Linked DNA regions of Homo sapiens: region 2 is linked to region 1. Evidence: fine-mapped expression QTL. A gene starts in region 1. The other region holds a variant in brackets. All regions are shown on one strand. Distances are from middle to middle.

What was found. PIP is the estimated chance that this variant, and not a neighbour inherited with it, causes the effect.
Region 2: its variant is the best candidate, but not a certain one, in a credible set for the expression of OSBPL10 in lung (TOPMed, PIP 0.79).

The regions. Positions count from the first base shown.
Region 1 is chr3:31,980,015-31,982,926 of GRCh38, reverse strand. It overlaps OSBPL10 (oxysterol binding protein like 10), which reads left to right and starts at 1,665. Exons shown (of 12, transcript NM_017784.5): 1 at 1,665-2,028. The coding sequence starts at 1,748. ZNF860 (zinc finger protein 860) reads right to left here and starts at 1,177. Exons shown (of 2, transcript NM_001137674.3): 1 at 1,025-1,177. RefSeq lists a silencer at 1,906-1,975.
Region 2 is chr3:31,870,448-31,873,359 of GRCh38, reverse strand. All of the region lies in intron 3 of OSBPL10 (oxysterol binding protein like 10), which reads left to right. Among named protein-coding and RNA genes, the nearest start is that of OSBPL10, 110 kb to the left of the region's middle. The variant C/G (reference allele first, on the strand shown) is at 1,553.

The sequences.
Region 1 (2,912 bases):
TTACTTCTGTTCACATTCCATTGCTCAAAGCAATTCCATGGCCAAGCCTAAGGTCCATGTGGAGGAAGGATACTCTTTCCATAGGAAGCGGCAGTAAATATTTTGAACAAATGAACATTCTTGCATAGTTTATTACAGCCGGTATCATTTGTCCCATTTTGCAGTGAGAAAACTAAGGCTAAAAGAGGTAATTTGATCAAGGTCATAGGTTAGAATTCAGCTCTGAATGGCTTCAAATTTGGTCCAGGCAAGCTCTTTTCAGATTTTTTTTTTTTTAACACTATGTAGGCACCTGGAATTGTAATTTACTCAGGGGCACAACCACTTCTCTTCAACTCCAGAAGCTTCTCCGTGCATCTCTAGAGCTAAACCACCCATGAAATCTTCCTGGAAGGATGTGAAGCTAGAAAGGGGTTGGGCTCGGGGAACTGTCCCTTTGAGAGCTGACTTTTCCATTTAGTAATTTTTTTTAACTCTTGAAGTATTTATCTGCTTGATGGGTTTGTAGATCCTTTGGACGGAGATCACCTATCATCTATCACCTTTTGTTTTGTCTGTGTGTGTGTGAGAGAGAGAGTCTGAGTTCCTCAAAGCTTTTTTCTAGGTAATTTTTGATACTTCAGATTACAATGGATATCTATATTCACAAAAAATATTAGTGGGATAGAAAGAGTATCTTTAGGTAGGAAGAGGGGCGCAGAAGTTACAGCCAACACAGAGAATCCTTCAATGTTTGTAAATATCTGTTAATTTCCCTTGCCTCTGGAGCAGTTTTCCCGGTTTCAGAGCCTCTGCTCCTAGGTGCACGTGCAGTGTGGTAGCAATGGATAGGTTTTGACTTGCCAGGTTTATGCGTGCCATTCAGGGCAGGGGATTAGGGTTAGGCCAGTGAGTGACCTAGGACACTCAATTTAAGGAAGCACTCGCACAAACCTGAGAGTTCGCGCGCCTCACCCCAGCCCAGCCGTGTGTCTGTTAAGCATTTATCATAATCCTGCTGCATGAAAATGCCCGGCGAGCTTACCTGTGAGGATCACCTGCCACTCCCCTCCTCCGCCAGACAACGCGGAGGGCCTCCCTGAGCTGTGACTTTGCTCCGCCGGTGATAATTTCCAGGTTACTGTGTAGGAGCGTCTGGCGCAGCATCGTGTGCGGAAGACCGAGAGAGGGAGTGTGCGTGTGAGCCTGTCAGGCCGGGCGGGTCCATATCCGGGTGGACCGGGTGGGTGGGGCTGCCCCTCCCTCCAGGTCCCGAGGTGGATAAGGGGTGGGGAGTGACGTGCAGAGATTCCCTTTCGCCCCTTCGGATCCAAGAGAGGGTGGCAGAAGGAATGCGTGGGTGACTTGGCGTGGATTTAGGGCGTGCCCACCCTGCAGATCGGCCTCCTAGAGTGTCCCGAGGGCCTGAGAGGCCGCAGGGACACGAAGGAAGAGAAGGAGGAACCCGAAGAGGGCTCGCCTAGCCGGCCACCCGCTCCGAACTTGCCCGGGAAACTAGTGCGGAGGGAGGGGCCGGGCCCTGGCCGCGGCGGGAGGAGGGGCGGCCGCAGCTGCATCCAGCCCCGTTGGCTTCCTTCCCAGCTCTCCTTCGCCTCCTCCTCCTCTTCCTCCTGTATGAGTCAGGCATTTCCCGGGGATTTGGAGCAGGCACGCGCGGCCCGGGCGTCCGGAGCTGTAGCAGCAGCAGCAGCCGCCGTGCCGGGGCCGCCACCGCGGCGGGCACCCGCGTCCCGGGCGCCCACGGACCATGGAGAGGGCAGTCCAGGGCACAGACGGCGGCGGGGGTAGCAACAGCAGCAGCCGCAGCAGCAGCCGTGCTACCTCGGCGGGCTCCTCGCCCTCCTGCTCTCTGGCGGGCCGGGGGGTCTCCAGCCGGTCGGCGGCGGCCGGGCTCGGCGGCGGGGGAAGCCGCAGCAGCCCGGGCTCTGTGGCCGCTAGCCCGTCCGGGGGAGGCGGCCGCAGGAGGGAGCCGGCGCTCGAGGGCGTGCTCAGCAAATACACCAACCTCCTCCAGGGCTGGCAGAACAGGTAACGCGCCAGCCGCCCGCGCCACCGCGCGCCGCTGTGTGTGTGTGTGTGTGTGTGCGTGCGTGTGTGTATGTGTGTCTGTGTATGTGTGTGCGCGCGCGATTGTGCCTTCAGCGAACCCAGTGATGCCTCCCAACGGTGCCCTTCCTGCGTCCCTGCTCCCCTCCAGGTGGGGTTCTCAGGATGGGGCGCGCCGTGGCTCCACCCCGGGACCGCACCGCAGTGGCGGGGAGGGAGGCGAGAGCCCTGGTTTTCTTCTATGCTGGCACCTGCAGAGACTGGAGTGGTGGCAGGAGGATCGTGCTGGTCCCCGTGCTCTGCTTGTCCGCGGTTTCCCGCACGCCTGAAGAATGACTGGGAAAGGGAGGCAGAAGGGGCGTGCTTTGTGCCGGGGTGAAAAAGCGTTAGCACGTCCGCTCCGATTACAGTAATTCTCTAAGTAACAGTTCATTTTAAAGTTTGGTGTTTCAGAACACCACCACCATCAACAAAAAACCTGCCACTTGTCATCCTGGGCGACTGTGCATACTCCTGCCCCAGTTTGTGCCTTGCAGCCTCCGATGTTTGTAATGGAAGTTTTGTTTAAAAACAGAAAGAGGCCGGGCGCGGTGGCTCACCTCTGTAATCCCAGTACTTTGGGAGGCCGAGGCGGGCAGATCACGAAGTCAGGAGTTCGAGACCAGCCTCGCCAACATGGTGAAAACCCGTCTCTACTAAAAACAAAAAAAATTAGCCGGGCGTGGCGGCGCGCCTGTAATTCCAGCTACTCCGGAGGCTGAGGCAGGAGAATCGCTTGAACCCCGGAGGCAGAGGTTGCAGTGAGCCGAGATCGCGCCATTGCAATCTAGCCGGGGCGACAGTGCGAGACTCCGACTCAAAAAAAA
Region 2 (2,912 bases), 110 kb after region 1:
TTATTCCCAAAGACAACTTTATTTAAAATAAACGACTACTCTTTTTTTCAAAAATTATGTTGCTTTGCTTTTGGATGGTTAAAATATTCTTCCTTTTTATCGTAGAATATGGTAGAATATTGATTGCATTTTTTTTAAATTGAGGTTTATTAGAGTATAATTTGCATACAATAAAATTTAACTCCTTTTAAGTGTAAAGTTCACTGAGTTTTGACAAATATATAGAGTCGAGTAACCACCACTGTACTCACAATTCCGCCCTGCCAGCAGGTTCCCTCGTTACCCCCTTTATGATCAATCTCCTCGCTGACCCCTCTGCAACTGGCAACTGCTGATTGGTTTCCTATTTATAGTTCTGCTTTTTCTAGAATGTTCTATAGGTAGAATTATATGGCCTTTCACAACAGACTTCTGTTACTTACAAAAAAGTTTTTGAGGCTGGATGTGGTGGCTCACGCCTGTAATCCCAGCACTTTGGGAGGCTGAGGCAGGCAGATTGCTCGAGTCTGGGAGTTCGAGACCAGCCTGGGCAACATGGCGAAACCCTGTCTCCAAAAAAATATGAAAAAAATTAGCTGGGCATGGTGGTGCACACCTGTAGTCTCAGCTTCTCAGGAGACTGAGGTGGGAGGATTGCTTGAGCCCAGGAGACAGAGGTTACATCAAACTGAGATTGCACCACTGTACTCCAGCCTGGGTGACAGAGTGAGATCATGTCTCAAAAAAAAAAAAAAAAAGCTTTTGAATTTCATCCATGCTGTTGTGTGTATCAGTAGTTGATTCTGTCTTTACATTTTAGCTATTTTAGTGGAATTATGGTACTTTTTGTTCTTAATATTCTTACTTGGAAAAATTGAAAGTGTGAATAACCCTAAATCAATTCCCAGACTTAAAAAAAAAAAAAAAACAACAACAAAAACAAAACACGTATTGGCTTTTGAAATCCAGAGGTCTGGCTATCTCGCCCAGCCTCCATTGGTTTGTACACAAAGAAGCCCCAACCAGGAGGCTGTGGTGCTAAGACTGGAACCTGGGTCTCCTGCTTTCTTGTCCTTGCTCTGACATCTAGCCTCACAGATGTCAGCTAGGGCCACCATGTGCTTCCCTCTGTGGGTGGTGGGGTCCCTTCTAGGAAAGTTTCTGATTCTGCATGGACAGAAACTGACAAACAGACAAAATCTCCCTTTTCTCCATGTCACATAGGTTCATCCTGTGGTTTCCGGTGTTACTTGAGGTGGAGTCACCGGGGTATGGGATTGGTCTGCCAGGAAGAATAGAACACAGACTTCCCCTGAAAACACAAACAACAAAAGAAAACATTCGGCCTTTAGTGCATTATAAAAATTAAAGCAGCATTGATGGAGAAAGTGTTGAGAGAGAGTCATAAAGCCATTCTTATGAGAATCTACTTGTGTATGACTTTGAAGGTCTTAAATGCAAGAAATGCAAGAGTGAATTTCTTGCATGTGTGTGCGTGTGCATGTGTGTGTGTGTGTTTTGAGACAGGGTCTCATTCTGTTGCTCAAGCTGGCATGCAGTGGTGCAATCAGTG[C/G]TACAGCCTTGACCTCCCAGGCTCTCAATCCATCCTCCCACCTTAGCCTCCTGAGCAGCTGGGGCCACAGGCACACACCATCATCCCCGGCTAATTTTTTGTAGAAACAGGGTTTCTCCACATAGCCCAGGCTGTTCTCCAACTCATGGGCTCAAGCGATCCTCCTGCCTTGCCCTCCCAAAGTGCTGGGATTATAGGCATGAGCCACTGAGCCTGGCTTCTTGTAGTTTTTATCAAGTGGGTGGTCTTAGGAAACTTCTAGGATAGGAAAAGTGGTGTTACAGTGTGTCCGGAATTGGTGGGTTCTTGGTCTCACTGACTTCAAGAATGAAGCCGTGGACCCTTGCGGTGAGTGTTACAGCTTTTAAGGTGGCCTGTCTGGAGTTTTTTCCTTCTGATGTTTGGATGTGTTCGGAGTTTCTTCCTTCTGGTGGGTTCATAGTCTCGCTGGCTCAGGAGGGAAGCTGCAGTCCTTCGTAGTGAGTGTTACAGCTCTTAAGGCGGCGCATCTGGAGTTGTTCCTTCCTCCCGGTGGGCTCATGGTCTCGCTGGCTTCAGGAGTGAAGCTGCAGATCTTAGGGGTGAGTGTTACAGCTCATAAAAGCAGTGTGGACCCAAAGAGTGAGCAGTAGCAAGATTTATTGCAAAGAGCGAAAGAACAAACCTTCTACAGTGCAGAAGGGGACGGGAACGGGTTGCCACTGCTGGTTTGGGCAGCCTGCTTTTATTCTCTTATCTGGCCCCACCCACGTCCTGCTGATTGGTAGAGCTGAGTGGTCTGTTTTGACAGGGCGCTGATTGGTGCGTTTACAATCCCTGAGCTAGACACAAAGGTTCTCCACCTCCCCATCAGATTAGTTAGATACAGAGTATAGACACACAGGTTCTCCAAGGCCTCACCAGAGCAGCTAGATACAGAGTGTCGATTGGTGTACTCACAAACCCTGAGCTAGACACAGGGTGCTGATTGGTGTGTTTACAAACCTTGAGCTAGATACAGAGTGCTGATTGGTGTATTTACAATCCCTGAGCTAGACATAAAGGTTCTCCAAGGCCCCACCAGAGCAGCTAGAATACAGAGTGTGGATTGGTGCACTCACAAACCCTGAGGTAGACACAGGGTGCTGATTGGTGTGTTTACAAACCTTGAACGAGATACAGAGTGCCAATTGGTGTATTTACAATCCCTGCGCTAGACATAAAGGTTCTCCAAGGCCCCACCAGACTCAGAAGCCCAGCTGGCTTCACCCAGTGGATCCCGCACCGGGGCTGCAGGTGGAGCTGCCTGCCAGTCCTGCGCCATGCATTCGCACTCCTCAGCCCTTGGGTGGTTGATAGGACTGGGTGCTATGGAGTAGGG